Homo sapiens: one gene and its partner. The protein of the gene in region 2 purifies or fractionates together with the protein of the main gene of each other region. This does not show direct contact. Each region holds a gene or a part of one and is shown on either strand. Other genes may lie near its edges.

Region 1 (4,663 bases), on a different chromosome or scaffold from region 2:
TTTGGCACACAATGTTAAAGTTACTTGACACTAAGAAAATTCTCTTATGGTGTCTTTGTGGTACAGTTAGTATTATTCAAAGTATACTCATTTTCAGTACCATATTTTATGTATTAACTCATTAGAGATGACAATACCTTGATTATAATTATGGAAATGCCATTAGCTACTCACTGTATTCTAATATTTAGACCTGTACGGTAGCCATTAGCCACAAGTGGCCATTAAAATTAAAATTGGAGCCATATGTGGGTATTAAAATTAAAATTTGAATTCATGTGTCTATTGGCTGCCATTGGCTGCCATATTGGACAGTTCATATTTTCATTATCACAGAAAATTCTATTGGACAGCACCAATTTAGACTTTTAAATGAAAGTCTGTGTCAGTACATATTTGAATGTAATACTACATTTTTAAAGCACTTGCTGTGTGCTGGTATTAACAGATGCTGAATACCAGGGATACAAATGTTGGTCAGGGTCACACATACTCTACATAAGTAGACATTGGATACATGTTGCTGAACAAATAATTAATAGATGAGGAAAGAAAGAATGAATCTGTAGTGTTGTTTCTGTGTTTAGAGACAAAAATGACCAAATTTAAGATTGACTAGCCCAGAAAAAAGTTAGAAAATGAGTAATTACACAAAAACAGTATTACTAGGATAACTGTTTCTTAAACTGTTCCATAAATGTAATCCCTTTAGATTGTATTGGCGATGGTGGTAGGAGGCTGCTAAGATTGTCTTCTGATTAACTGAGAAAAATGAGAAGGTCTTAATCTGAACTCCCTCAACTTTCTGTTCTTCCTCACACTCACCGAACTTGCTTATATTTTATACTGGTACTTAATTCTTCCCTTCACAGTCACAAGGAAGATGCAACCCTCTTTTCCAAGATAACAATTCCACTTAAGCTTTTGATCCTTTTCTTTCATTCTGCTGTCCATACTCCATCAGTTATCATTAGTATGTTTCTTTTCTTTCTCTTTACTTTTTCTCTTAACTTGTGAACATGTTCAAGCCTCTCTGCTACTTTTTCCTGTACCTGTAACTGGCAAATTCTTTTTAATTTTCTGAAAAACAGATCTATAAAACTGTGCTGGCTGATGTATTTGGAATGTGGCTAGTTTGAGTAGAGTTATTCTTACGTATAAAATACACATTGGATTTCAAAAACAGTATTAAAAAATGTAAAACCTGGCCGGGCAAGGTGGCTCATTCCTGTAATCCCAGTACTTTGGGAGGCCGAGACAGGCAGATCACCTGAGGTCAGGAGTTCGAGACCAGCCTGGCCAACATGGTGAAACCTCATCTCTACTAAAAATCCGAAAATTTGCCTGGCGTGGTGATGGGCACCTGTAATCCCAGCTACTCAGGAGGCTGAAGCAGCAGAATCACTTGAACGTGGGAGGCAAAGGTTGCAGTAAGCCAAGATCATGCCACTGGACTCTAGCCTGGGTGACAGAGGGAGACTCTGTCTCAAAAAAGAAAAAAGAAAAAAGAAAAAAGAACTCTCATTTTTTTGTTAGTTACATGTTGAGATATTATAATATTTTACATATATAGGTAAAGTAAAATAAATTTTTGGAATTTTGTTTCTTTTTACTTTTTTTAAAGTGGTTAGAAATTTTAAAGTTACCTACGTGACTTGCATCTGTTGCTCATGTTCTATTTCTATTAGTGCTGCTGTATAACATTAAAAGTGAATTCCTGTATCCTGGTAAGAATAGTGAGATCCTGTCTCTAGGAAAGAAAAAAAAATTAGCTGGGCATTGTGGTACTGACTTGTAGTCTCAGCTGCTTGGAAGGTTAGGGTGGGAAGGTCACTTGACCCAAGTAGTTTGAGGCTGCAGTGAGCCATGATCATGCCACCACACTCTAGCCTGGGTGACAGAGTGAGACCGTCTGAAAAGAATAGTGAGCTCCTGTTTTTACAGAACACATTGTGGAAGTCTAGATATCTCACTTACTAGACTAGACTGTAAATATCTTAGGATAAGAACCATATCTTACTTGTATTTATATTCCTTACACTCAAGACAGCAGTTGGCCCATTGTAGGTATTCACCTGCCAAATGTTGGTTGAATAAATGAATGAGTATCAGATCTAATTCAGCATCAGTTTGAAAATACCTGCATTCTCTGCCTCTTTTCCAAGGAATGAATGAAGGAATAGAAAAAGGAAGCACTGGCCTAGGGTGGTATTTTTTTTGTGGATAAGTTTTAACCTCAAGAATTAATGTTTAAGAACCTAGATCTGTGAGTATGTGCTGCTTTATCTCTATTTTCAGACATATATTCTTAGATACGCAGTTTTGCATTTGGTTAGGAAGAGGATAAAGCATTAGAGGAAACTCAGGTATTCCCAGCAACACTGAAGTAGGGACCTTGCTCCAGATCCTCTAAAGAGCCTTATGATTACCATTATTGTCATTAAATGTTTTCTAGACCTGTGCTATTCAACATGGTATCCACATATGGCTGTCGAAATGTAGGCACTTGAAGTGTGTCTACTCTGAATTGAGATGTGTGTGAATGAAATATGCAGTGGATCTTGAAGACTTAGTTTGGAAAAAGGATGTAAAATATCTCATTCATTTTCTAATTGATTACATGTTGAAATTATATTGGGTTATATAAATATACATGTATTTGGTTAAATATTAAATGCTACTTGTTTATTTTTACCTTTTTTTAAATGTGGAAACTAAGAAAATTAACATATGTGGCTTAGGCCATATTTCTGTTCTACAGCATTGTTTTAGATTATGGTAACAATATATAATGCCTGGCATAGGCAGATTCAAGAAAGTTTTTGATTCTAAGGACTTTATGACTTTACCCAGGCTTTTTTTCTGTGAGTTTTCTATTTTCAGAGTGTTGGTCTGCATTATATCTAAGAGACTAGAAGCTGCCTGATAGACTAACTGCATCTGGTCCCTTGGAAATAATTTATCAAGTCAACATCGACTGCTGTGGGGTTCTAGATTTAGCCATGCTGTTTATTCTTCATTTTGTTTCTGCAGTTGTCTGAGTGCTGATCTTTCTTTCTTTCTTTTTTTTTTTTTTTTGGAGACAGTTTCGCTCTTTCGCCCAGGCGGAGTGCAGTTGCGCGATCTCAGCTCACTGCAAGTTCGCCTCCTGGGTTCCCACCATTCTCCTGCCTCAGCCTCCGGAGTAGCTGGGACTACAGGCGCCCACCACCACGCCCAGCTAATTTTTTGTATTTTTAGTAGAGATGGGGTTTCTCCGTGTTACCAGGATGGTCTCGATCTCCTGACCTCATGATCCGCCCGCCTCGGCCTCCGGAAGTGCTGGGATTACAGGCGTCAGCCACCATGCCCGGCCCGAGTGCTGATCATTCTAAGCAAGATAATATTCATAATTAGCTTAGTTTTTACTAGAAATGTGCATTTTTATTGTTTAATTTTAATTTTTTTATTCTCAAAAGGAAGTAAACGTGTATTTTTTAAAAAATATCAAAATGAAACTCAAGATTTGAGTTTATAAACATAGTTGAAAGATTTTATTCTCAGATATTCTTTATTTTGCTTTTTTTCCTGGAGTTTCTCTGTTATAAAATTTAGTATAAGAAAAACATTCTAGGCCAGGTGTGGTGGCTCAAACCTGTAACCTCGGCACTTTGGGAGACACACAGGAGGATTGCTTTGGGCCAGGAGTTTAAGGCCAGATTGGGCAACATAGTGAGACCCTGTGTCTACAAAAATTAAAAATTAGCTGGGCATGGCGGTGCCTGCCTTTAGTCCCAGCTACTTGGGAGACTGAGGCAGGAGTATTGCTTGAACACAGGAGTTCAAGGCGGCAGTGAGCTATGATTGTGCCAGTACATTCCAGCCTGGATGACAGAGTAAGACCCTGTCTCTAAAAAATAAAAATTAAAAAAAAGAAAGAAACAAAAACATTCTTGATTGGATATTTATATGGGAAATACTATGAGACTTATTTTTAAGCCAATACTTCAAGTTAGAAATTATATATATAATTTTTTTTTTGAGATAAGGCCTCACTTTGTCTCCCAGGCTGTACTGCAGTGATGTGATCACAGCTCACTGCAACCCCAAACTCCTGGGCTCAAATGATCCTCCTGCCTCAGCCTCCTGAGTAGCTAAGACTTCAGGCATTTGCCACCACACCCAGCTAATTAAAAAAAAAAAAAAATTGTAGAGGTGGGGGTCTCACTATGTTTCCCAGGCTGGTCTCAGACTCCTGGACTCAAGCGATCCTCCTGTCTCAGCCTCCCAAAGTGCTGAGATTACAGGTGTGAGCCACTGTGCCCAGACGATGTTTGTATTTAATTTTTTTGCATATATGGTTATAATGCATTCAGTAAACATTCACCTGTATTGTGAATGACATGCATTGAATTTCTGTTACTTCTCAGCACTTGGGAATGGCTCTGAGGGAACTGTTTGACTCTTGGGTGTGCTTAGGAGAAAACTAGAACACAAATTTTTTTGCTGACTGGCTCACTTAAAATTGTACAATTTTTAATTTTCGTATTTTCTTATCCTATACATGGTATTGGCAAATTCTTTTGATTTTTTTTTTTTTTTAAGACAGTCTCGCTTTGTCACCCAGGCTAGAGTGCAGTGGCGCGATCTCCGCTCACTGCAACCTCCGCCCCCCACCCCCCCC
Region 2 (5,093 bases):
TGTGTGAGGAGAAAACCATTAGCATGAGAATATCCAAACTGTCTTCCCATTCTGAATAAAAGAAAAGCCATAAAACTGATAATTAATGTTTAGTATCTCTGCTATGATGGTTCTCAAAAGCTGACAGTATGTAAAAATTATTCTAAGTGCTTATTTAAAAAGCATAATCTCCGAACTCGTGAATCAGAATCTCTTGGGTGTGGGGCTGGATCGCACTTTTGACAAAGGCTCCCCAGTAGATTTTGACTCAACAGAGGGGTGTTTGGGAGCCTATATCTAATTTTCCCTGCCCCAGGTCTACACTTCAGTGTTCCCCACATTTTCTAATCCTTCTCTCCCTCCACACTCCGGTTCCTTTCATTATTCTAATACTTCCATGAATTAACCAGGTATAGAACTAATCTAGGCTGGGCGCAGTGGCTCACGCCTGTAATCCTAGCACTTTGGGAGGCCGAGGTGGGCAGATCACGAGGTCAGGAGATCGAGACCATCCTGGCTAACATGGTGAAACCCCGTCTCTACTAAAAATACGAAAAAATTAGCCGGGCGTGGTGGCGGGCGCTTGTAGTGCCAGCTACTCGGGAGACTGAGGCAGGAGAATGGCGTGAACCCGGGAGGCGGAGCTTGCAGTGAGCCGAGATCGTGCCGCTGCACTCCAGCCTGGGTGACAGAGCAAGACTCCGTCTCAAAAAAAAAAAAAAAAACTAGTTTATCAAATAACTGTGATATAGAAATTAAATACATATTGCTGCAACTGTATCAACAACTGTCCTGTCAGTGATAAGGGGTAACAATGTTTTCATACATGCATTCTCTCTTTGCTATATACATACACACATACACATAAATACATATATACATACACTCATGCATGTGTGTGTATATATACATGTGAGAGAAGACTCCGTTTATTATTTATATTTTTATAGTACACTTCTAAAACACAGCCATGTGCCTGAGATATAGTAGGGAGTCAAATATGTTTGAGTTACTGAATTAATTAATTTGACTTCATCCTTACTCAAGAAAAGTTTCAACTGAGTGAAGGTCTTCCATTCTCTAAAGAGCAAGTCAATAGAAGGAGATCATTCTTCCTTTACACATTGATGTAAGGAATATATCATACAAACTAGTCTTGATTTTTGTCATTTAGAAGACTAGTCTTGTAATTAATTGGCAATTTAGTATTCCATGTGAGATATCCAGTGTCCATGTACGTCATATTAGATCCATACACATGTAACAAGCAAAGAGGGTATGTTTTATTTTTTGAATGCTAATGTAACATGTAGGGACATTTTAAAAAATCGCCTTGACATATTTTCTATTTGGAATAGTTTTAAATACTTTGGATAATGTGTTGTATTTGTATTTCTAAAGAAGAAAATCTTATGCAACCAACTTAATTGAATAAGAAATAAATCATTCCCAGAAATAATTTATTTTCTAATGTTAACATAATGTGTACATTCTGAGAAATTATTAATAAAATGTTTAAAAGATAGGCTTCTGGGGTGAACTCCTAGAATTAGCTAGGTATGTTTTTTCTGTTTGCCTAGGACAATGACCTAATAAGATGGTTAATCATCATTGGACTCATAAAAACAAACAAATAAAAAGCCAACTAACCATTTAAAGTGAGACTTTAACATCAGAAAAAGGATGGACTTGTTGCAGTTGCTGTAGCATTCAAAGTCAAGGTAAGAACCGTCGAGGTTGTCTAATTAAAACATTTCTTTTATGTAAGAAATTTTAACAAATTTCAGTGAAAATGTTTTTGGTAGTTATGATAAATATTACAGATTTTATGCTCTGTGTCTTCTCCACACTTTTGTTCTGAGCCCTTAAAGCCTTGTAAATATCCCTTCTAGAAATAGAAGAGCCTCAGATTTATATACTCAAAAATAAGAGTAAATCATACCTTTATAAAGTGAAAAATAAAGTTTGGAGTCCTATTTCTATTGCTTTCTAAACAAATGAAACATGAAGTCTGAAAGGATGGACTTCTAGTTACTCTCTTAAAATATACTATAAGATAATTATTTGTATAAACTGTATTGAATTACTATACCAGGCTCCCTATTTCTTTGATTTCACTTTAACTGGATAAGTAGGAGTGGGCGGGTGGAGGGGTGGAAAATATGTTTCAAAGTCACTTAATCACCTCACTTTCCTCCATTCAACTCGTTTGATTTAGGGTGAGGGGAAAGAGATTTTCTAGATAACTTTTTTATCTCTGTTCAAATAAGAGAAAAAAATCTTCTGGGCACAGCTCTTGGAAAGAATTAACAGCTCAATAAATAATGGTCCCCTTCACCCATTCAGGAAGGTGGCTTCCCTGATAAGACAGTTATTTTTATTGTGAAAGTAAGGTGGGGATGCAGAAATTCTCTCCTCTGAACAATCTAAGAAGTTAGGAAATGCTGTTTTCCCTTTTATCCTCCTCAGTTCCATAGGTACATGCTAGAAACTGGGTCACTTGGCCTGCACTGGTTTTCTATAACCCCTTAAATATGAAAAGCTAAACAGAAATAAGCAGAGGCTGGTAAGATTCTGCCCTCTACTTCAGCCCAATCAAACTGTGAAGAACTGACCTGTTCTGTTCAGGGAAGAGTTGCAATGCTGCATACAAATGCCTGTGGCTCTGTCTATAAACATATTGTGTCCTCAACATTTATTTATGTCAATAATTTGGAACTCAGAAATAATATGTTCAGAGCAAAATATATTAAACGCTTCTAAATAAGGCTTAAAATGCCACAATGAAGTAAAAAGTGTGGTATTTATTCAAGGCTAAATTGATATTCAAGTTTTGTAGGTACTTTGTACTTACTTGATACATTTTTTTTTTTTTTTTTTTGAGAAGGAGTTTCGCTCTTGTTGCCCAGGCTGGAGTGCAATGGCGTGATTTCAGCTCACCACAACCTCAGCCTCCTGGGTTCAAGTGATTCTCCTGCCTGAGCTTCCAGAGTAGCTGAGATTACAGGCATGTACCACCACACCCAGCTAATTTTGTATTTTTGGCAGAAATGGGGTTTCTCTGTGTTGGTCAGGCTGGTCTCGAACTCCCAACCTCAGGTGATCTGCCCGCCTCGGCCTCCCAAAGTGCTGGGATTACAGGCATGAGTCACTGCTCCCGGCCTACTTGATACAATTTAACCTTTCTGAGAGATGAGAAACCAAGTGCCCACATTTCTTATTTTTCTGGATGGGTATTTTATCTGAACATAAAAGAGAGAGGTGTGGAATAGTTGTCTTGGAAAGTACGGGAAATAACAGAAAAAAGTAATGATTATTCGGGTATGTTCTCCAGTGGTACAGAAGGATGAGAGGATGAGAGAGTTTATTTCAACTAGAGGTAAATAGGGAAACATTAAAGTGGTGTGATTTGGAGCCGCATTACAGCCAAGAGATAGGGAAGGACATTCCAGGAATGGAAGACATATACATGAAGGTAGAGAGCTTTTCTGTTGGGACAGTGGTTCCATACATCTGCAAGTGCTTATGGTTGTATTGGGAAATGGGACTAAAAACTTGGATTCATTTAGGCTGTGAAGACCCTCAAATAGGAAGTGTAAGTTTTATTTTTGTTGTAAGAGGGATCTTTGAATGATTCCAAGAATGGACATGATATGCATAGGAAAGAAAGCAAGCTGGAAGACAGGACAAGTAGAAATTAATCAATTGAAAGAAACAAGGCTTGAGTGGTGAGATAATAGTCTTCAAGCCTTCAAGAATATTTGTTTAGTATAAAGAAAAAGAAAACTCTAAAGCTGAAGGAAGACTATCTGCCTTGCAAGTCGTTCAAAAAGATTTGCAATTATAGAATTAATTGGTAAAAAATAAATATTTTCCAACTTTTAAATTATGAAGAAACAGAGATATTCGTGGAAAAAGTGGTGTAAATTTATTAAGGGGCTGCTTATTACCTTGAGACCACCAAATTATTGATTTTTTTCCTCACTTTACCTACAAAACACATACAAAAAGTGGAATAATTGAACTTCTCTTAGAGATACATAGGTATGGGTTTCTCCATTCATGAGTGTATTTATATACACTCGCATATACATAAGTGATAATATCTTCAGATATTGATTTTTCCATATTCATGCATTATCCACTAAATATGCATGATATATATTTATGGTTTTTATGCATTTATAATATAGAGAATCAATAAATCCTTGTTGAGTAAATTAATGCATAAAATATGCAGTAGATCTTCATTATTCACAGATTCTATATTAGAAAATTTGTCTAAACACTAAAATTTGTTTGTGACACCAAAATTAATACTGCTGGGCTTTTGTGATCATTGGCATGCATGAGCAGAGTGGTGAAAAATTTGAGTTGCTCTGTTTCCAGTTGAAGTGGAACAAAGTGAAGCTCTGCCTTCCTCTCTCAGCTCCCATACTATAAACTTCACAGTGCATTTATCGCCACATTGTTTCCATAGTTGTGCTTTGCGATGCTGAGTTTACTGTTTTAAATGGACTTCAAGCATAGCCCTGAAGTGTTGTCCCGTTGTTCCCACCTCCTAGAGGGCCTGACAGAAGAGGTACATATGCTATGTAAGTTTCCCTCAGGCATGAACTACAGTGCTATTGGCCACTAATTCAATGTTAATGAATCAACAGTATATACTAAGGTGTCTTTAAACAAAAACATACATAAAACATTATGTATTAAGTTATGTATTGATCCGTTGATTAAAATATTGTGACCAAAGCCACACAGTCACCTAACACTGTATCTCTTCTAGGAATGATGGATTAATATTTGCAAATTCAGTGTTCCCAGCAACTTTATGGAACATAATTATTGCAAAACGTGAGAATCAATTGTACATATAACCTATATCATACATATTATATAATCAGTATCCTATTACAAATCGGATGCTTATATAGATAACATTGATATTTACATACTTAGATATTTACATATCTAAGGTATCTATATGAGCAGCTACATAGCAAGTATCTACATAGCATGTATCCACATATATATGCTATATACATAACATATACCTATATCTATGTTATGTGTCTGCTTATATACTTTATATACATAAATATGTGTTATGCATA

The links. The genes of interacting proteins can lie anywhere in the genome.
Region 1: the proteins of SLCO1B3 (region 2) and ATP11B purify together in Homo sapiens (affinity purification with mass spectrometry; one large-scale study listed by BioGRID and IntAct). This does not show direct contact.

Annotation. Positions count from the first base shown.
Region 1 is NC_000003.12:182,796,220-182,800,882, forward strand, and holds part of ATP11B (phospholipid-transporting ATPase IF), read left to right. Parts: intron 1-4,663. UniProt on the Homo sapiens protein: Catalytic component of a P4-ATPase flippase complex which catalyzes the hydrolysis of ATP coupled to the transport of aminophospholipids, phosphatidylserines (PS) and phosphatidylethanolamines (PE), from the outer to the inner leaflet of intracellular membranes.
Region 2 is NC_000012.12:20,809,065-20,814,157, forward strand, and holds the start of SLCO1B3 (solute carrier organic anion transporter family member 1B3), read left to right. Parts: upstream 1-1,640; 5' UTR 1,641-1,700; intron 1,701-4,459; 5' UTR 4,460-4,574; intron 4,575-5,093. UniProt on the Homo sapiens protein: Mediates the Na(+)-independent uptake of organic anions.